Regions from separate parts of the Homo sapiens genome. Here all the other regions are reported to be linked to region 2. The links are microRNA targets in miRTarBase. Many come from high-throughput screens and were not tested one by one. Region 2 holds a microRNA gene; each other region holds the end of a gene's coding sequence. Distances are from middle to middle.

The links. The annotated mature microRNA hsa-miR-188-3p reads CUCCCACAUGCAGGGUUUGCA and lies in region 2 at 1,567-1,587, shown strand. An mRNA with a match to its seed (bases 2 to 7 or 8) in the 3' UTR can be bound and repressed. Matches are read on the target gene's strand: a 7mer-m8 pairs with bases 2 to 8, a 7mer-A1 pairs with bases 2 to 7 and ends in A, and an 8mer does both.
Region 1: miRTarBase lists KANSL3 as a target of hsa-miR-188-3p. Seed matches in the 3' UTR shown: 7mer-A1 at 2,177-2,183.
Region 3: miRTarBase lists WBP11 as a target of hsa-miR-188-3p. Seed matches in the 3' UTR shown: 8mer at 1,987-1,994 and 8mer at 1,921-1,928.
Region 4: miRTarBase lists SPIN3 as a target of hsa-miR-188-3p. Seed matches in the 3' UTR shown: 7mer-A1 at 1,280-1,286 and 8mer at 3,638-3,645.
Region 5: miRTarBase lists PPP1R3D as a target of hsa-miR-188-3p. Seed matches in the 3' UTR shown: 7mer-A1 at 2,217-2,223 and 8mer at 1,465-1,472.
Region 6: miRTarBase lists SLC66A2 as a target of hsa-miR-188-3p. Seed matches in the 3' UTR shown: 7mer-m8 at 288-294.

Annotation. Positions count from the first base shown.
Region 1 is chr2:96,592,667-96,596,681 of GRCh38, reverse strand. It overlaps KANSL3 (KAT8 regulatory NSL complex subunit 3), which reads left to right. Exons shown (of 21, transcript NM_001115016.3): 21 at 1,051-3,510. The coding sequence ends at 1,071. Among named protein-coding and RNA genes, the nearest start is that of KANSL3, 44 kb to the left of the region's middle.
Region 2 is chrX:50,001,990-50,006,004 of GRCh38, forward strand. It overlaps MIR188 (microRNA 188), which reads left to right and starts at 1,514; the gene lies at 1,514-1,599. All of the region lies in intron 3 of CLCN5 (chloride voltage-gated channel 5), which reads left to right. MIR532 (microRNA 532) reads left to right here and starts at 1,159; the gene lies at 1,159-1,249.
Region 3 is chr12:14,784,582-14,787,581 of GRCh38, forward strand. WBP11 (WW domain binding protein 11) reads right to left here. Exons shown (of 12, transcript NM_016312.3): 12 at 1-2,917. The coding sequence ends at 2,484. Among named protein-coding and RNA genes, the nearest start is that of H2AJ, 12 kb to the left of the region's middle.
Region 4 is chrX:56,990,989-56,995,003 of GRCh38, reverse strand. SPIN3 (spindlin family member 3) reads left to right here. Exons shown (of 2, transcript NM_001010862.3): 2 at 55-4,015. The coding sequence starts at 57. The coding sequence ends at 833. Among named protein-coding and RNA genes, the nearest start is that of SPIN3, 2.5 kb to the left of the region's middle.
Region 5 is chr20:59,936,214-59,939,213 of GRCh38, forward strand. PPP1R3D (protein phosphatase 1 regulatory subunit 3D) reads right to left here. Exons shown (of 1, transcript NM_006242.4): 1 at 450-3,000. The coding sequence ends at 2,819. It also overlaps a transcript of FAM217B not described here. Among named protein-coding and RNA genes, the nearest start is that of PPP1R3D, 2.6 kb to the right of the region's middle.
Region 6 is chr18:79,901,245-79,904,244 of GRCh38, reverse strand. It overlaps SLC66A2 (solute carrier family 66 member 2), which reads left to right. Exons shown (of 6, transcript NM_025078.5): 6 at 62-1,825. The coding sequence ends at 269. Among named protein-coding and RNA genes, the nearest start is that of SLC66A2, 49 kb to the left of the region's middle. RefSeq lists an enhancer at 1-78.

The DNA.
Region 1 (4,015 bases), not on the chromosome of region 2:
TTGGGCAGGGAAGCCCATGAGGTTTTGTTTTTGTTTTTGATTGAGATGGGGTCTTGCTATATTGCCCAGGTTGGTCTGGAACTCTGGGCTCCAGCAGTCTTCCCACCTCAGCCTCCCAAAGTGCTGGGATTGAAGTCATGAGGTTTGATTGTCAAACTCCTCTTCATTGGTGTGATTATGGCTCACTGCAGCCTCAACCTCTTGGGCTCAAACAATCCTGTGGCCTCGGCCTCCCGAGTAGCTGGGCCTATAAGGCATGCAGCACTATGCTCACCTAATGTTTGAAAAAATTTTGTAGAGATGGGCTAAGTTGCCCAGGCTGGTCTTAAACTTCTGGGCTCAAGCAGTCCTCCTGCCTGGCCTCCCAAAGTGTTGGGATTATAGGCATGAGCCACCTCGCCTGGCCTTCCCTCCTTTACTACATTCTCAGAGACCTCTTAGGAGTTTCCCAAGGGGGAAATTTAGAAAAGTGGGGAAAGCGTTGGTAAAAAAGGCCACCCTCTCTACTTGCTTCCTTATTCTTAAGCTGCAGGGCTCAACATTGATGGCATCCCCCCACACCTACATGTCTAAGGCCTCAAAATCAGAAGTCACGGAAATCTTCCCTTCTGTTCTGTTGCCCTTAAAAACTCACCTATTTCCTTTTTTCTGCATTCCTTTTCTGTCTTCATGTGTAATAATATGAGGTGACCTTTGTTGTTGAGCACAGATTAAACTCAGGAGCTTTATGTGGATTATTTCATTTAATCCTTACGGTGACCCTGGAAAGTAGATGCTGTCATCTACCTCTTACAGGCGAGGAAAAGGAGGCTCAGAGAACATAGGCACTTGCCTTAAAAAGTGGAAAGTTGAGTCTCTCACTCTAGAGTCCATGTTCTGTTAACCACTTGGCAGCTAGAACATGTGTCCTTGTGTATCCAACTTCTTTCCTATTGAGAATTAATTCTTTAAAATAAATTCTCAGGAGTTGGGATAATTGGGATAGAGGGTCTGAATATGATGATAACCTGTCAAAGCTTTGACCCTTCTTCACTACCTCTCCTGCCACAGCGCCTGCCTCCAGCACCCTGAAGATGCTGTGTGATATGTCCTCCTTACCAAGTTGGTGATGGCTGCCTCATGGTGGGCCCTGGACAGGTGTGTGGTCCTGCTGAGCTGTCCACGTGTCGGAAGACCTGTTTAAGACAGTCATTTTTGCCTCTCCGCCAACTGTCTTCAGAGAAACCATTAGGTTAGGTGATACGGTGCCAGCAAGGGAAGCACCATCGTCCAGGATCTGCAAATCTGGTTCCTGGGAACCCCAGACTCCTCAGCAGATCTGGCTGTACATGGATCAGAACCACTTCTTCCCCCGCTTAAGCTGTGGTTTGACCCAAGGGTCAGCATATAGGACTGCCTGCTGCATTTAATGAAGGTGTTTCCTTTTGGAAGTCTGTGCTACCCTCTGCGCCTAGTTGGGAGGAGACATCCATCTGGTCTGGGATTTCGGGAGTTAGAATGGAAAGCTCTTTGCTAAAGACTGGAGTCATCCTGGCCTGCCAACTGGTGGTTCAGAGCCGGACGGGCTTGTTTTGGACATCACTGTTGCCTTCACTCAGCAGCCACGGGAGAGTGCTCCCCATGCAACTCCACCTTAGAAACCACGTCAGATACTGAGTAGCTTGCTGACTCCTGGAAACTTCTGGTTTTTGTTAGTATCATAATGAAGGCAAAGAGAACTAGGCTGTCATCTTTCAGCCTCTTTGACTTACTCTAGATGTTGGGAGCAGTGGTTGCCAGGTGAAACCTGGGCCCTTTGTCTTTTTCACCATGCTTTGGGCAGTTTCTGTATCCAGAGAGTCCGCAGGTTCAGATAAGCTGAAGAAGAGTAATAGAACAGCAAAGGAAGTGGCTTGAAGGATGTGCTAGTAAGCCCTGTGGTTTGTGCTTAGGTCTCTGCTCTGCTACCCAAGGAACTGGTGGTTCAGCTGGAGATAAAAAGAAGAATTTGCCAAGTCAGAGAAGAAACCCCAACCCCGGAAAATCCTCTGTCTCCAGTCTCTGGAGGTGAAGCAGGGACAATAAGCTAAGGTAGTATCTTGGCCATCCCAGGAAACTTGTGGCATTAGGACGATGAAGGCCATGCTTCAGTGTTTTCGTTTCTATTTCATGAGACTTTTTGTCTTCCTGCTTACAAGTGGGAAGATGATTGACAGTGACTCTACTATGCAGGGCTGTTGGTACCAACCTGAGCCCTATAGGTGGCAGTCCCTGGAGAAGTGGTCACAGAAGATGGAGCTCTGATCCCCTGCTTACCTCTTCACAACACTTGTGTGCAAAGATAGTTTTAGATTTGGTTTAGAAGCTATCCTCCAGAACAGGCTCCCATACTTAGAATGTTTCTAGTTAAGGTAATAAATTAGGCAACCCAAGTGTGACTCCACTCAAGTGTCCTTTTCTGTAGGCAGGAAGGGCCCACAACATGGCTTAAAATGTAGTCCATGGTTCTGGCCCACAGTACAGTGTGTATCTATACCAGGTCACCTGTGTTCAATCTGGGAGCCTTCCTGGCCAGTCTGAGTGGCAGCCAGAAGGGAGCTCATAGTGTCTAGGAGTCTCAGGCAAGGTAGGTCAGGGTACTGTGGGCAGGGGGGATGTGTGTGATAGGAGAGGGTACCCTAAACCCCATACCTTCCCTCCCTGACCTGAAAAGCTGATCTCAACAGGGATTCACACAGAATTAGGCTGTGTTTTTGCATTAGCTGGTAGGTGACTTTCTCAAAATTCTTAAATTCAGAAAGTATTTAGTAAACTTGAGGAAGGTATGAAATCTGGAGGAGGCATCCAGGACCCAGGGGTTTGATAGCTTTACAGGTAGGATCATACCACACCAAAAGAGCAGTGGACAATAAGACTATATGAGCTATATGAAGCTTTTAGGAATCATTTAGGACAGACAGAGCCCTAAACAACCCATTCATGACTTAAGTTGTTGGCTCAGTGTATGCTGGGGACAAAGAAAAACTAACAAGCCGACCTGCCTTTATGATAAATTCTAGTGTGCTTACAAGGGATGACTTCCTGAGGTGTGATCTGTCCACCTTGAAGAACTCCACAACTGAAGAAGGGGAGCTGTGAGAACGTGGATTGTTCTACAACTTGCACAGGGTAACAGAGGAAGTGGCTGAGGCCTAGAGTCACGTTTTCCAGTTCCCTTCGCAAACTATATTTCTTGGAACGCGAAAGGAAGCTTTACCTATTTCATAGAAGACCTGGAATCCATAACCTCAGAAGGCAATATTATTGATAGAAAATGTGGAAGGATCAGGAAGTTCTTAGATTCTTGGATGACAGATGCATGTTGATGCCCTATGGAGATGTCCTTGTGTTTTGAGGTCACTGAGGTAGGAAGACCTGTCTACTCTTGGTTTCACCACTAGAACAGTCTTGGGCTGGATGGGTTATAGAGCTGAGCGGCTGTGATGGTTCTGTTTTTACATTAACAAAAACAATTAAAAACACCAAAAACAACATTTGGATTGCTTCAGCTTCTTTTCAGTTGACTTCTCATATGTATTCTGGAAACCACCCAATGAAGTGGGCACCAAAGGTAGAGCTAAGATATTGTAAGGCCAGTGATCATCACCTCACCAATGCCAGGTGGTATGAGGGGGTACTGTAATTTCCTTTTTTTTTTTTCGAGATGGAGTCTCGCATTGTTATTTGGGCTGGAGTGCAATGGCGCGATCTTGGCTAACTGCAACTTCCGCCTCCTGTGTTCAAGCAATTCTCCTGCCTCAGCCTCCCAAGTAGCTGAGATTACAGGCGCCCGACACCACGCCCAGCTAATTTTTTGTGTTTTTAGTAGAGACAGGGTTCCACTATGTTGGCCAAGCTGGTCTCAAACTCCTGACCTTGTGATCCGCCCGCCTCAGCCTCCCAAAGTGCTGGGATTACAGGCGTGAGCCACCACACCCAGCCTGTAATTTCCTTTCTATAAGTGAGGAAACAGGCACAGAGCAGTCAAAACAGCAGG
Region 2 (4,015 bases):
TGAGGTTGTCTTCTTACCTCACAAGCCTCTCTTTCTCAGTCTCTTGATGGTTTCTCCTCCTCTTCCTGAATTCTAAGTATTAAAGAGATATAGGGCTTAGTCTTCAGACTTCTTTTTTTTTTTTTAACTTCTCATTAGTCCTCAGCTGTTCTCATCTTGTCTTGCAACTCTAAGTACCATTTTATGTGGATGATTTCTGTGTTTGTATTTCCAGCCTGGACTTCTCTCCTGAATTCCAGATGCCTATGTCCAACTATGTACTGGACATCTGCCCCGAATGTCTAATAAGTATCTCAAAACTTTAACACATCCAAAGCTGAGGTCCTGGTTTTCCTCCCCCTCTCAAAAAGCCCTACTCCTCCCTCTGTGTTCTCCAACTCAGCAAACAGCATTTCCCAATTGCATATGCCAAGGATATGGAGAATTTTAATAAGCTAAAGGTTTTGGATTCATCTTTGACACTTTTTCCCCTCCATTCTCCAAATACAAACTGCTGTCAAATCTTGTTGGCTCTACTTTCAAAATACATGTCTAATCTGACCACACAGCCACTTCTCATACTTCTCACTTCCTCTATTATTTCCACACTAATCCAGCTTTTCCCTGGGCTGACAAGTGCAAGTTCTCTTGCGTCTGTCTGTCTGTCTGTCTCTCTGTCTCTGTCTCTGTCTCTGTCTCTCTCTCTCTCTCTCTGTGTGTGTGTGTGTGTGTGTGTGTGTGTGTGTGTGGTGTGTGTGTGGACACAAAGTGGTTGGTGGCTGAGAGCTTGAGCCTCCTTTTTTGAGTCCTCTTTCTAATGACCTGCATGCCAGATTCTAAGCTTTCTTACCATCTGTTCTCGTATGTGTGTTATTTCATCTGTAAAATAGGGATAATGATCACCTCATGGATATTTTATGAGAATAAATGAGCTATGTGTGAAAAGCACTTAAAACAGTGCTCTGCAAATGTAAATACTATACTGGTGTTAGGAATAAAAATAAAGGAAAAGAAAGAAGGAAGGAAAACAAATATGTTGTAGATAGTGAACATTTCTGAAGGTACATATGTGAATGTACACAAGCACACCTTCTCATTACAGCATGTCTGGGGCACAGTCATAGAAGTCCAAGGCATCTGGGATACGCATGCACACAGTATACAGGAGAGCAGACCTCCCGACTTGCTTTCTCTCCTCCATGCCTTGAGTGTAGGACCGTTGGCATCTTAATTACCCTCCCACACCCAAGGCTTGCAGAAGAGCGAGCCTTCTCTTCCCTCTCCAGTGCATAGGCATGAGCACATGGACAGGTACACCAAAGGGAGGTAGACCCTCTCTTACGTGCTCTGTATGTGGGGTACACTGTTAGCAGCCATCCCATCTGGATGACTGTCCTGCTTCCATGGCCACTGCTCCTAGTTTACCCATCAGCACTCCTGTGGCTATCTTGCTGCCCACTTGCACCCCCCAGGCCAGTGCCTCTTGCCTCCTAGAGCATACCCATATGTCGTGCCAAGAGAGCAAGCCCTTCCCTGCTCCCTCTCTCACATCCCTTGCATGGTGGAGGGTGAGCTTTCTGAAAACCCCTCCCACATGCAGGGTTTGCAGGATGGCGAGCCTCAGCTTTCCTTGCTCTCTTGTGCATGTGTATATACACATACGCACTCCTTCACCAAAAGAAAAACACACACCCATGTGGTGGGAAGGAGAATGACTCTCAGCCATGTCCTTTCTCCCATCTCAGTCTTACATGGATCCTGCAGGAGAGGGAGACTTCTCTTAGCTTTCTCTTGCACATGGTGCAGCCCCTCATACTCAGGGATAGGCACAGCCTAGAGAAGGAAGGGGGGTCTTTTGACCTGGTTCTGTCTTAGCGGCACCTAGAGGAGGAGAGAGAACCTTCTCAGGACTCCTGTACATGGGGCATGATGAAAAGGGAGTCTTCTAGCTAATTCTCACAAACCCAGTTTGTGAGGAAAATTGTGTCTATATCATAACCATATGCAAAGATGTAATATGCACACACATTTTGGGTTCAGAAAGTAGAATCCACTCACTGTGCCATGCCTTTCCATATGCACACTTGTTTGCTCAAGAGGGTGTGTGAAGATCTGTCTTCTTAGACACTCATGTAGATATGAGTCAGATTGTGAGTTTTCTCTGTTATCTCCCCAGACCCAGGATTTGCAGCCGATTCATTTGGTGAGCCACTCATTCATTCAGCAAATATTTATCGAGCAGCTACTGTGTGTTGGGTACTCCCCTATGCACCAGGGATACACCAGTGACCAAAAGACAAGAATCCCTGCCCTAGTGAGGGGAGGCAGGTAGTGAACAAAATAAGTAAGTAATAGATAGTGTGCCAATTGTTGATAAGTGCTCTGGAGAATAATAAGGCAGGAAAAGGGGACAAGGAGTGGGTGGGGGTAGTTACAGCATAGATGGTGGTGGAGAAGTTTCGATATCAAATAGGGTAGTCAGGAAAGGCCTACTGTGTTCTAGGAACAACAAAGAGCCATTGTGGCAGAAGCATAGGGCTGGGAAGTAGTAAGTTACAATGGAAAAAGGGAAAGCTGATAATTACTATGTATCTCTAAAATCTAAGGCCGCTTTTAAAAAAAAAATCATACCATTATCACACTTAAAAATAATTACCATCCAGGCACAGGGGCTCATGCCTGTAATCTCAGCACTTTGTGGGAGGCTAAGGTAGGCAGATCACCTGAGGTTAGGAATTCAAGACCAGCCTGGCCAACATGGTGAAACCCCGTCTCTACTAAAAATACAAAAATTAGTCAGGCCTGGTGGCAGGTGCCTGTAATCCCAGCTACTCGGGAGGCTGAGGCAGGAGAATCGCTTGAACCCGGGAGGCGGAGGTTGCAGTGAGCCAAGATCGTGCCACTGCGCTCCAGCCTGGGTGACAAGAGCGAGGCTTCATCTCAAAAAGAAAAAAAATTGCCAACAATTTTTTAATATCATCACATATCTGTTGTTCCCATTTCCACTTGTCTCAGAAATATCATAAATTAGGATCCAGATAAGGTCCATGCATTGCATTTGGTTGATATGTATCTTAAGTCCCTTTGAATTATATCTTTCCCTTCCATCTATATTTTTTCTTTCCTTATAATTTATTTGTTGGAAGAAAGTGGGCCATTCATCCTATACAGTTTTGCATAGTCTGGATTTTTGTGATCACATCCCTGTGATGTAGTTTACATGTTCCTTCTCCTTGTTTGTATTTCCTGTAAACTGATAGTTGCATCTGGAAGCCTGATCAAATTCAGGCTTAATTTTGAGGAAGGGGGAGCAGAACTACTTCCATTAAGAGGCACAAAATAACTGATGATCATCTTTCTGTGATGTTAGTTGCCACCGATGCTCAATTCTTAGAGCCGTTATTTCATTAGGGGTTGCAAAATGATGATATTCTAATCCCATTATTCTCTTGATTTATTAGCTGGAATACTTCTATAAAGAAAAACTTCCCTTCATCTGCTATTTGATCACCCAGTGTTGCCGTCTTTATAGGCAAGATAGGATAAATGTTTGGTTCTCTTTATTTATCAGTACTCAGAATAATGAGTTGGTTCACTAGCTTACTCTAAAGAGGATTTTTTAAAAAAACTATTATAATAAACTCATAGATTTAAATATATTTGGACTTTTAATCCATTGCAGTTCTTGCCTTCAGTGAAGCTCCAGTGCCCCATCTTTAGCCAGTAGGAGCTTCTTCAAATTGGTTCCTCAGTCCTTTTGACATGCCTCCGTAGTTATCTGATAGCTTCTCCGCTTTCAGAGATGAAAAAAATGTACAAAGCTCATCGCAGATACCTTCCCCAGGCCTGGAATCTGCCATGTCTTCAAGAAGCCCTGGTTTCTTTTAATCAGACATGATATTTAAAGACCATATTTGCCTCTGGATTGGTCATTGTATTTAGGCTTCTACAATGATCAGAACAGAAAAATGTTTTGTTTTTGTGTTTTCTTGTTTCTAGATAAATACATCATGATTCCATTATACTTCTGATTCAA
Region 3 (3,000 bases), not on the chromosome of region 2:
TATATATAAGGAGATATTTTAATCAAGAGCACAAACAAGAATATACAAAATGAGAACTGAAACAGAATCTTGGATAGCATCCAGGGCTTCATGCTGATTCCATGACATGGCAGAGTATTATTGTGGTGATCCTTAATTTAAAGGGGCAACTGCTGTCCCTAAAGTGACACTTTGATAAGGAAATAGTAACAAGTCTATCCATATACATGATTAAAGATTTCTATCATTTACATTTCATAGCTGTGAGCTGACCATTTTCATGAAAATATTATGTAAATTATGATCATAACAAGTGTACCCAGAATCAGAACTGCTAATTAATTCCCCTTTCCTGTGGATGCAGCTGATGTATTGTCACACCACTAATTTTCAGAAAATTATACTAGCAATATAAGGAAATGCCTTTATGATAAACTATCAACAGCTTTCTTATATTAACATAAATCAGAAATCTCCAACTGAAGGCTGAGATGGGAAGATCACTTGAGGCTAGGAGACCAGACTGGGCAACATAGCGAGACCTCATCTCTAAAAAATAAATTAGCTGGTTGTGGTGGCACGTATCTGAAGTTCCAACTACTTGGGAGGCTGAGGCCAGAGATCACTTGAACCCAGGAGTTTCAGGCTGCAGTGAGCTATGATCACATCACTGCACTGCAGCCTGGGCAACAGAGTTAGAACCTGTCTCCATGGAAAAATGATAAAAACATCACTCCCAGAAAGAATATAAGTTTCAAGTAAGACCATTAAAAATATTTCAGATCAAGTATTGGGAAATAATTCTGTTTATGCTGAATAACTAACAATATTGATACCATATGGTTTGATCCTTGATATCCGTAAGTTATCAAGGATGGTGTCAAGGATTGATAACATAAGGTTCAATCCTTACATCTGAACAGACTCAATTCACCTGTGGACCCGTATTAATATTACACTAAAAAACCAACCCAAAACGGTCTATTTAGTGCTTTGGCAGGATTTGCTTTAATATGAAAGAATAAATCAGTATCTTCCAAGCAAAGCCAAACAAACAAAAGATCTTGAATAAAAATCTAAAAATCCATCAACTCAACTCTAAGAAAATAAATGCCTTATTGTATTATTGCACTACATTTTAGGTTATCACCAATTTTTGATAGTATGGGATTCATGTAAAAGGCATTTGAGATACTGTGGAAAGTAACGTATGCCTAAACAATGCACGCACTGTGTGTATGTGTTTATGAAATACACACTTTGGATCACTGGATAAATCACGAGTCCTTTTTAAGTTTCAATACTCTCTAATGTAAAATGGGGAAAATACCCAGAAAAGTTATCTATAGGGTTAATTGGTAGATGAGTTAGTCATTAAATTAACATTAAACTTACTAAGAGTTAGTCTAAATTGGTAGATGAGTTTACATTAAAGCACTTTGTAAAGAAAATGGTATAAATGCAAATTAATGTTAAGCACTCTTATTCATTCATATTTTAATATAAAAGCACACCAAACCCACCAATTCAGAAAGGAAAAAAAGCTAACCTCTTCTGATTCTTTTATAGCTTAAAAATGGTTTAAAATGACTTTTGCCATTCAACTCGTATCAGTTCAAGAAGCTCTGGAATAAGTAACCACTGAAGGTAAGACATCTTTTAAATAATAAAAGCCAAACCATACTATTCTTAACACCTCTCAGTTTCTCTAAAGCCAGTATGACAATCTTAAAAAAGGGAAATAATTACTCCTTTTTATCCCTTAAAATTTAAAATGTAGTTTTTACCATGTTTTCAGTAAGATTCTCATTCTGTACCAGAAAGGCAGTTCCTTAAAGACCCAAGTTTTAAATATTTAACTTTTTCTGTCCATAAAATAGGTATTATGTTTACATATTATCAGTAACACAGAGTATCTTGGTGTAGAACATTTATTTATTTTTCCCACAAATCACTGAAAGTTTAGGTCAGTGGGAAATAATTTTAATCAAATAATTGTACATATTCTTCCCACATATCCTGCCTTGTATTAGGAAATGACATTGTGATCCATTTCATTACAAGTAAAATATTACAAAATATTTACAGGAAAATATTAAAAATAACTCAAACACAAAAGGCAAGATGAAATAAACTGTTTTTTTTTCTCCAGAAATCTCTACTCCAGTGCCCACAGCACACAAGAGTCAAAACAAATAAGCAACTAAGATCCCCCGATCACAAATTTCCAAAGAACTGGAGGAGGGGAAGAAACAGGGTGAAAATGGTGGTATGAAAGGGAATGGATGTTAGCAGCACTGCTTCAATAACTGATCTATTCTGGATGAAATACCCTTTTTTATGTGCAGTAAATTCTGAACAAGGCTAAATTTTAGGATATTCCTTGAACTGAAATTAGAAAATACCCTGACAATGGAAGCAGCTCTTTCATCTAAGTTTAATAAGAGCCTCTTTCTCCATGGGCCACTGTTGTGAACAGAAGCCTTTTCTGGCATCAAAAGCTGTCACAGTAGCCCTTCCATCTCTTTCATGAAAGCCTCATAGACATCATCCTTAGTTTGTACTGAGACAGGAACAGAAGGACCAGATTTGGGTGCTGCTTTGGCAAGAGGCACAGCAGAATCATCCTCTGACTTTCTTTGGGGAGCAGCAGTAGCCCCTTTATTCTCCCGACGTACTCTCAGTGCAGTGGGCACAAATCGAGTAATCTCTGCCTTGGGATTAGTGATCTGTGGCTTGGCACTGATGGTTGCTGTGGCTTTCTTCTCAATGGTGGCTGCACTTGTATCATCCGCCTTGGGTCGCTGAATCAAGTTGGGTGGGGCACTTAAAACCCCAGGGTTTGGCAAGGGAGCTGGTGGGAACAGCCCAGGGGGGGCAGGTCCAAGGGGAGGCACCAAAGGTGGGCGCATCATGCCAGGACGAGGTGGAGGAATACCTAAATGAATAAAATAGGCAAGATGAATACTGTAAGAACTAATAAAATTTAACTACTATTAAGGACATTTAAATATTGGTTGC
Region 4 (4,015 bases), 7.0 Mb from region 2:
GATTTTGTTAATTTCCTTTCTCGGTCCACCTGGCAACTGTGCTCCTCTTCGCAGGCATGAAGACCCCGTTTGGAAAGGCAGCTGCAGGGCAGCGGTCCAGGACGGGCGCTGGCCACGGCAGTGTGTCTGTTACCATGATAAAGAGGAAGGCTGCACACAAGAAGCATAGGAGCCGACCCACCTCCCAGCCTCGGGGGAACATCGTGGGCTGCAGAATTCAGCACGGATGGAAAGATGGAGATGAACCTCTAACACAGTGGAAAGGAACCGTTCTGGATCAGGTACCTGTAAATCCCTCTCTGTATCTTATCAAATATGATGGATTTGACTGTGTTTATGGATTGGAACTTCACAGAGATGAAAGAGTGTCATCACTTGAAGTCCTTCCTAATAGAGTTGCATCATCTAGAATCAGTGATACACACTTGGCAGAAATAATGGTTGGCAAAGCAGTGGAACATATTTTTGAGACAGAGGAAGGTTCCAAAAATGAATGGAGGGGGATGGTCTTAGCTCAGGCACCTGTCATGAACACATGGTTTTACATTACCTATGAGAAAGATCCTGTATTATATATGTACCAGCTCTTAGATGATTATAAAGATGGTGACCTCCGCATCCTTCAAGATTCCAATGATTCTCCTCTGGCAGAGAGGGAGCCAGGAGAAGTCATAGACAGCCTGGTAGGCAAACAGGTGGAATACGCCAAAGACGATGGCTCCAAGAGAACTGGCATGGTCATTCATCAGGTAGAAGCAAAACCCTCTGTGTACTTCATCAAATTTGATGATGATTTCCATATCTATGTCTACGATTTGGTAAAAACATCTTAGAGGTCATCTTGAAATTTGCCAAATATATGAGACTCTAAATCTGTAGACACAGAAAGTCTTGATTGCTTTCCAGTTTGTAAGAACCATCTTCTCCCTTTTTGCACGTTTTGCTTGGCAAAAAAATTGGAACTTCTGCCCTCTCATACGTTTTTGGAAGAAACCTTTTGCCCATCTGTCCAACCTTTTCACTGGTTCCTCTCCGCAATTTAACTGATTAGTGAGAAGGGTAAAGTCTGACATCCATTGGCTCATACTTTTTTTTATCTTGGGTGGTGTTAATAGATTAAAGGTAGCTGAACACCTCTCACCTCACTCTTTTTGGCACTTGGACTCTACACTCATTGAGGTGTGAAGCTTGCTGAGATATCCCATGTGACTGGCTGGGTAAGTGTCTTTGCAATCTCAAATCTCCCCCAAGTGGCTTCAAAAATCTAACTTGGGAAAGAGTGGGAAGCCCATTTTGGTCTCTTGTTCAAGTTGCATTCTCAGTTCTAACTGTACTAAAAGTAAGGCTAATAATTTTGCTCTCTTTCCGGTTCTTTCACCTATTGCTCAACTGTTTTAGAATTAAGAAGGTAATTACTTTGCATTTTAGTACCTAACCATAGGCTGAGAAACCTTGCAAAACTGATAAGAAGACAAGCATTTGGGGACCAAACTCCAAGTGGAGAGATCAAGATTTCTGGTGGAGCTTAAGTGAAAGGTTTTAGTCATCAGTGGCATTAGGGTCTCTCTTGTCTCCAATAGCTCTGGCTGGTATCTGCAGACATGGAGTAGGTTTTAACTGATAGAAGCTGTGCAGGCAGACTTTAGCACAAATGGTCTTTGCCAGCCCAGAGGAGCATTAAGCCAGGCTCTAGCTAGAGCCCTCAGTCACAGGCAAAGGCTGGGTTTGGCTGGGTTTGGACAGATCTGTCCAGAACCTCAAAATGAAAGAGGAGAAACCTAGAATCAAACTGAGATACAGATTTCTTTGCTGTGCTAAGAGAGACTCAAGTTTTAGATTTGATTCTTAGGAGACTGAATTCAGAGTCCCAGCATGTGAGGTGGGCAAGGCACTTGTGAGAACCAAGAATGGCTGAAAGCAGGCTATACTTCCTTGCAGGGACTGGTGGGCTCATCTATTATGGTATCCCAGCAGGACTTGGAACACAGTCAGTGGTAGGTAATCTGTAGGCTTAATGATGTTTTAAGTGCTGGCATTGGTAGATAGAAATCTAATAGATTTTTGTTAGTGTTTGGATTTTTAACTATCCTGTTTCTTGGCTGGCCCTAAGAAACTTATATGCAGATAAGGGTGAGTTCTACTGTGGCAGAAAAGTAAACAATGGAAGGGCCTTTGAGCTTTCCATTATTAAAGAGCCATTGGCGGAGGTTAACCAAAGCCTAGGAAAGAAAAGTTGAAGTACAAGCATGGTTTTTGAGAGAAGCACCTGGCCAAAACCAAAGCTTTCTCATTGAGGTTCTCACAGAAGCTCCATTAGCAGTAACAGCCTAATAAGGCCATGGAGTTCTGCACATTTGGGGCTGGGACTCAAGGCAGTACAATCATATTGGGACTGTACTGCAAGATATCTTCCAAATTAGTTTAAGTTCACAGGTCATGGAGTCCAGACTACCGGCACAGATTGGCATCCTGCTGAGGATGAAACAAAGAAGATGTTCTCTTTTCTCCTATGTTTTATCTGTCTACTTTTGCTTTTTGATGCCACTAAGTCTCTACTATGATGTTTGACTGACAACAGCAATGTGGGTCTGTATTGCCCTATGTTCTAAGTCCTGGGGTCATATATTTGCTTAAAAAAACTGTTCTAGTGGCTGGGGACTAGTGTGCTTTCTAATTTTTTTGATGTGAGGTTGATATTGTGATAATCTTATGTCTTCTTGACCCTTTGGACTCTTTAATATGTATGACATGCAATTGTGGGGTTAGATTAATTCAACTCCTGAGGTCCTGAAGGAACTTCACCCAGTCAAGAGGAAGACAGCCAAGGCTGCAGCTGCTGAAGGAACCCCATATCTGGGCAGACATCTTTGTGAGATCTATATGGCTGAAATGAGAAAAACGAGAAATTGGGAAAGGCAGAATTTTGGACTTTAATTATTTTGGACTTTGAATTAGAAATTTAATTTTGGGCAGTCCTTTTTCCCTTGGAGTTTAATAGTTGATGGGGTGGGGGTGAGGTCATATAGTTCAAACTAAGGCATTTTTATTATGTTGTTGATATTGTATTATTTGGAGTATTTTAATGCTATCTTTGGGAGTCATTGTATAATTGTTGTCAGCTATGTCAGGAAATATGGCTGGACATAATTGTAAATTAGGGCTGCAATTGTGATCAAATTTTCAGTCTAGGGTGTAATGTAGCCTTAGAGTTAATTTAATTACTGTTCTATTTTGACTTATTTCAGAGCCTCTTGGGGGCAAAAACAACTGCTCACCAATCTTACATTGATGGGAGCAGAACTTTTCTAAGATACTGTTGGTCTCCCTGGAAGGGGACAGCCACAGCCCTGTTTGTTGACCAGAGTCTTGAGCATTAACCATTGTGGCTTAAGAGAATGAAAATGTACAAGGGTATGATGGGATCTATCCTCTTCCTCTCTCCATGCTCCTGACTCAAGAAAAGGAAAAGACTTGCATCTCTCAAAAATGTTTGGAAGAAAGTTCTACCCATCTTCTCTTACACTCATTCAATCTTATGCTTGGGAGGAGGAATAACTTGATGAGATTGAGAAAATGGTTATAATGGATAGGCAGCTTAGGCCACTCTTGGATCTTGAGTTCGTTCCACACAGCAAGATGTGGGAAAGACTGCAGTCCTTCACTACATGGCTGGGTAAACATCTGCTTTCTAGACCCAACTATCTCTCCTTGGGGTGGGGGAATCCCAAAGTCGTTAGACTTATGATAGAAGTTCATTTCAGCCTCAGGTCCAAGCCATGTTCTCCAATCCAGCTCTATCAGCTATAAAGCTGGTATCTATTTTGATTCTTTTTTACAGTTTTAATATATAAATTGTTTTTTAGAAAAATAACACATGCCTATGGTAAAAGTCAAACAGTATAAAAGGGTATACTATTAAAAAGTAAGTCTCTCTTCCTCCTTCTCACCCCTGGCCTCAGTTCCCTGGTCCCATTTTCAAAAAGTAACAACTGTTACCAGTTACTGATGTATCATT
Region 5 (3,000 bases), not on the chromosome of region 2:
ATTCCATGGATCCACGTCATATATACAGTTACCCTGTTGAGTGAAATGTTATGTGGCCTATGGCTGTACTTACACCACTCTGAGCTTTATTTTCAGCTAAGAAAAAGGGGATATTGTCTACCAGGTAGCATAACATTCAGAATTAAATGAAATCACATATTTAAAGCACTTAGCACTGTGGCCAAGCAAATAAGGGAAGACAAAATAAATGTAAGTTTTCTTCCCCCATGTGCAAGACTTTGTACTTAGGTGAGGGTCACGATCCGGAAGGCAGACAGACAGACACTCATTACTGCCTGCACAGTGTCATTAACTGTTGTAAGAGAAGTACATTAATGATCACATTCCCTGTATTCCCCTAGAGCTTTCTTCATACCTCATGCTGACCTGGCATATAAAATTGCATTTCCTTTTCTCAAAGACACATACAACAACTCTGCTACTGACGCTGAGGCACAATGACAAAATTTATTTTTGCCAAGGCTCTACGTTTATCAGTGTTGTAGAAAGGATAAGACTTGCATGTGAAATGATTTAGACAAGAAGTTTCTAAAGCTTGGTCTTCTGTAATTAGGCCACAAGAAAAACATACTGAAGCATAATAGAATGGCTCACAACTGTTTTTGCACATATACTTTAATACTTAGGCTTGGGTAAAATCATTTTAAATAACATATTAAAATATGTTTGGGGGGACAACCCAGCAATTGCACAGCCCACTAGAAAATTTTAACATCTAAGTAATATAACTGTTTTAGGGTCTGAAAGTTCTCCTTCAGTTGTTCCACAGCCTCTTTATCAACTAGGCAAATATATTTAAGCTTTTAAATTTCATAATGTTGGTATTTTTTAAAAGGCACGGGAGGTTCACTTAATATTAAATATATAACATTCACTTTCATAACCAAAACCTTTTTGGCAAGTGACTTTCACATAGATTATGAGATTCTCTACATGCCTTAAAATAAATCTGGCAGCTCTTAACTCATATCTAAATTCTCTGGACAACTGTCTTGCTCTCTGTTTTGGGGCCAGGGGCGTAGCAGTGAAGGCCCTAACAGGCTTGCTGACCTAATTGGACAGTTTGTTAAATAGCAGGAAATGTAACAAGGCTTCTCTCTCTCTTGCATGTTAATGTAGTGAACAGTGCTAATAGCCAGAGATTGTGCAATTTAGTCACAATATTTCAAGCCAAAATTCAGTGTTCTTATATTAAAAGATACCGAAGAAAGCTATCCTTGTTCTTTGAATTATAAAAGCACAGAGGTTGCAATGATCAGAACCAAACTGGTTAAAAGCCGAAATGCATCCTTTCAGTATTGATTTGACAGATGCCAACAAGCATTCAAAAATTTAGAGTTAATTTCTTGGTGACAGGTAGCATAAAATTGATCAGACTGGTTTCAGCTGTATCATAAGCTTCACAAATTGGAGATCTTGTCCTTCCTGGCTGTTTTTTTTTTTTTCCCACACCTTAATTCTAGCACCTGTTGTCAGACCACTGTTCAGCACCAAAAGAACTCCTCAGCCTGGAGTTCTTTGGAGTTTTAAGTGATTGCCTAACTCAGCAGGGGACAGTGGTCTTGACTTCTTGGTTGACGGTTTAAAAACATAAAAGAATTTTATATTTTAAAACTGACAAACTAGAAAATGTTAGAAACTCTATCTGAAGGCAGAAAGTATAAAGTTGGTGGGTACCTGATAAAACATGATGTATGTAAATACAGTTCAAAACAATTTAAAAGTATAAATATTTGTCAATTATTTTTCCTCCAGTGCTCTGGCTATTGCTGAAAACACCTTCTAGTTCCACCTTGTAACTGGACTCCCAAAAGATGAATGCTGACATCTTCTGATGCTTAACAAGAAATAAAAATAGTCACCTTAATCATCAAAAAGGTAATTGCAAAGGGCACTGTTGCCTGAAATTCTCTAGTCACCTGAAAACTGAAATAACTGAGGCAAGACTTCTTAAAATGCTTAGTTTCAAACTTAAACAGAATGGCCTGATAATGATCAAACATGTACAGAGAAATACATGAAATCAGAATTGTGAATGCAGAGAAATAACTGTTTTGCTAGTTTAAAAGTCTGAAGCTTTTCCCTCCTCCCCAGCTGTTAATGTAGGAGACACACAGCCTAACCAGGACAGTCTCAATGCCCAGGAATGGTTGTGTGATGACTGATAAAGCAGAAATTTCTTGCCTATTAATAGTTTCCCACTGTTAGAAGGCTACAGCCGTTGGCAATCAGATGTGGGCTCAGGTTTTCCTTATCCTGGGGCAGGAATGCCTGGAGGGACCACGATGTGGGTCACACTGTACATTCTGTTTACTGTGGGCACAAACACAGAACTTTTTTTTTTTAGCTTATTAAATCGAGAATATTCCTGAGGAGGCATCCGCTATGGGCTAAAGGTCCCAACATCACAATAATAAATAACAGCTATGTTTACAGAGACACATTCAGGACACATGCAAAAGCTTTTCCTAGCAGGAGGACTTGGGCCTTTGCAAAACAAGCTGCTTGGGCCTCCCCAGAGGGCCCACCCTCCCATGCACCTACCCCACCACCCTGCCCCAACTCATTACACAACTCGGCCTTCTGGCCACCTGAGGCTACTTTTTAGACCAAGTGACTCAGACGTTTCAAGTAGAAGACAGGATGGGCCACTGCCAGGGGACCTTGCAGCAGAAAATTAGGTCAGAGGACTTGGAGGGTGGTGAAGAACAACCAGATAGATGTGAGAGCCCAGCAGGGAAATGACAGGAGGCGCAGCTTAGGTGTGGAGGCTCCAGGTGGCCGGTCCCCGCGCGGCTCAGATGAAGTGGATCCAGCTCTCTTCGCACTCCCCGCGAGGCATGTGCAGCGCGTGGTTGCGACATGTGAGGCTGTAGTCTCGGTGGTCGTTGTTGTCCCAGTACTCGGCACCCGCCACTTGGTAGCGCACCGCGAAGTGCACGCGGGAGCCGAGCTCCAGCAGGAAGGGCGGTACTGGAA
Region 6 (3,000 bases), not on the chromosome of region 2:
CACTGACTGAGCCCAGGTCGCCGCCCTCCCCACCGCTGACCGCCTGCTTGTGTCTCCACAGCATCAAGATGGTGCTCATGTGGACCAGTGGTGACGCCTTCAAGACGGCCTACTTCCTGCTGAAGGGTGCCCCTCTGCAGTTCTCCGTGTGCGGCCTGCTGCAGGTGCTGGTGGACCTGGCCATCCTGGGGCAGGCCTACGCCTTCGCCCGCCACCCCCAGAAGCCGGCGCCCCACGCCGTGCACCCCACTGGCACCAAGGCCCTCTGACAGTGGGGAGGACGAGGATGTGGGACCGCCAGCCGCGGGCACTGGTGGGCCCTGACCTCCCCGCGGGGAGGGTGGGTGCTGTGGCCCCTGCAGGTGTGGCAGAGATGGGGCATGGGCATTGGGGTCTCCATCAGCCTCTGTGGGGTGTCTCAGGGTGGGCAGTGGGGGTGGGGCTGGGACGCTGTTTGTGCTCAGCGGGGACAGCCAGGGTTGATCTGGCCCCGAGGGTTTTGGATGTTTTTAGGATGACATAAAAAGCAAGTGTTTTCCCCATTTCCTCTTATGAAACACCGTCTGAGCCCAAGGTACACATTGGGCGGCCTGCAGGAACCTGCTCCAGGTGGACACACGGGCCAGCAGCCGCGAACCTTGAAGCTGGGGTGACCGCAGGAGACCCTGTAAGGCCTGTGAGCGGAGCCCTCGACCCCGTGACACCCTGGCCAGACACCCTGCTTGGACTGGGGTGGCCTCTGCTACCCAGGGGTCTGGCACGGGGGAGGGCTGGGGCTTTCTCTGCCTGGTACACACGGAAAGGCGGCTGTGCGGACGCAGGGTCACCGTGCTCCGGGTTTTCTGACAGTCGGTGTTTCCTGGGCCTTTGGAGTGGCTGCGAGGCCTGAACGCCTTGTGGATCCGCTGTGTCCAGCCCGGCTGAGCATCGCCAGGGCTAGCTCATGCTGCTCTTGTCAGCCTCTGGTTCTCCTCGAGTCCTTGGGGACGTGGCAGATGCCAGCGACCATCAGACAACGTGGAGGCCCTCATGGGCAATGGCTGAGGGGGCCGGGCTGAGGCTGTGCACATGCAGTCTGCACGCCACTCTTGGGCTCTGCTGGCGGAGATCCCCTTCCTTCTGGGTGCAGACTGCACCTCCGGATGCAGTTTTGATGTCCATCTTCCAGGAGAGACGGTCTCGGGTCCAGGGAGTGGAGGGGGCTGCCCCTGCCGTGCAGGTCCTGGCCGATGGCGCCTTACCCTGCTGCCCTGGGCTTTTGGCCTGAAGCAAATTCCTGAGTGGGGGGTACTGGGGCCTGCCGCATCCTGTCCTGTCCACTGCCCACCCCCGTGTGCTGGCTCCCTCACTTCTGGCTGCAGTGGGAGCCGCCAGTCTGACCCTTGTCACCGCACGCTCTGCCCCCACCCCGTTGCAAGAGGTCACACCATGTCAGCAGCCTTGCACTGACCGCAGCCGGCCCCCAGGCCTCAGAGTTCTGGATGCTTCCGTGCGGCTCCAACAGGCATCGTCTTCCCTTCCGCAGGTGGAGGGGCCGCTTCCCGCAGGCATCTGAGCTCTGTGCCGGGGCCGTGGCCATGGGAAGATGTTCCACGCTGCCTCCTCCTCGAGTTTTCCTCGGAAACACTCTTGAATGTCTGAGTGAGGGTCCTGCTTAGCTCTTTGGCCTGTGAGATGCTTTGAAAATTTTTATTTTTTTAAGATGAAGCAAGATGTCTGTAGCGGTAATTGCCTCACATTAAACTGTCGCCGACTGCAGGCGCAGTGACTGCTGAATGTACCCTGTGTGGCGACTTGGAATCAATAAACCATTTGTGGATCCTGAGTTGGCCTTGGGCAGAGGGAAGGATCTGGCTGTGGTCCTGGCCTCTGCCCAGACACACCCTTGTAGCCTGGGCCACCTTAGAAGGCCCCTGTGTGACCTGGGTTCCTCCAGGGCCCCAAACAACAGCCCAGCCCCCTCGACCTGTCACTGGCCTGTGCCTGTGGGCCGGCAGCCCGGGGGTCCTTTTGGCTCCTCACAGACGGGTCTGGCACTGCCTCTAGCTGCCCTGGCCACATCCGCCCTTCTGCCTCCCACCACCGAAGGCTTAGAGCATGGGAAGGGTCTCCTGTAAAGGCCAAGAGAAGTGTTTCCAGATTTGCGATCTTGGAGCAGCACATACAGATGGAGCTGTGTGTGCATAGCGATTTTTTCTGTGCAGTTTACATTGAAGGCAAGATGTTTCTTTGTCCAGTAAAAAACCAGGTGTGTGGGTGCAGGGCAGGATTTGGGTTGAAGGGCCCATCTGGGTACTAGGAGAGGGCACAGGCCACGTCCAGGCAGCAGCCTGGGGGAAGACTGGAGATGATGAAGGCTAGCGTGTCTGGAACGTCTCAGATGCAAATCGCCCTCCTCAAGTGCTGGCGGGCGGTGCCAGATGAACCCGAGATCTAGCGCAGGGATGGGGTTGTGTGTCTTCAGGGTGTGGAGACAGGCGGTTCTTGGGGACCACTCTGGGTTTTAACAGGAAATGGGAGCAAGGTCTCAGCCCCGCACTGCAGGGGCCGTGGCAGGTGGGGGCAGCGGTGGAAATAGCTGCGTTTCTGAACTCTCAGGTCACTGCCACCCTGTGATGCCTTCTGATGGTTTTAAGCAACAAAGAAGCACCAAGGAAGCAGGAGGCCGAGGAGGGCTCCCAGTGAGGGCCCCTCCGTGGGAGAGAGCGGGTTGTGAGAGCCTGGGAAGTTCACATTCCCCTCACCCCATGAGGAAACTGAGACCTGCCCTGAGCCCCAGCCCTGTGCCCTTCCCAGGGGCTTGTGTGAGAGAGCGGCCCACTGGGCACCTGTAGAGTGAAAAGGATGCCCAGGGGCTGGGTGGGCCGCTTGCTCAGGAGGAAATGTACCCCCACCCCAGTCTCAGCACAACTGCCTGGCACCCCCATCCTGGTGACCCAGGGTGGTCTCTGGTGGGCCCTGGTCCTGGAGGGCTCTGGGATTCCCCCACCAGACCCTGCA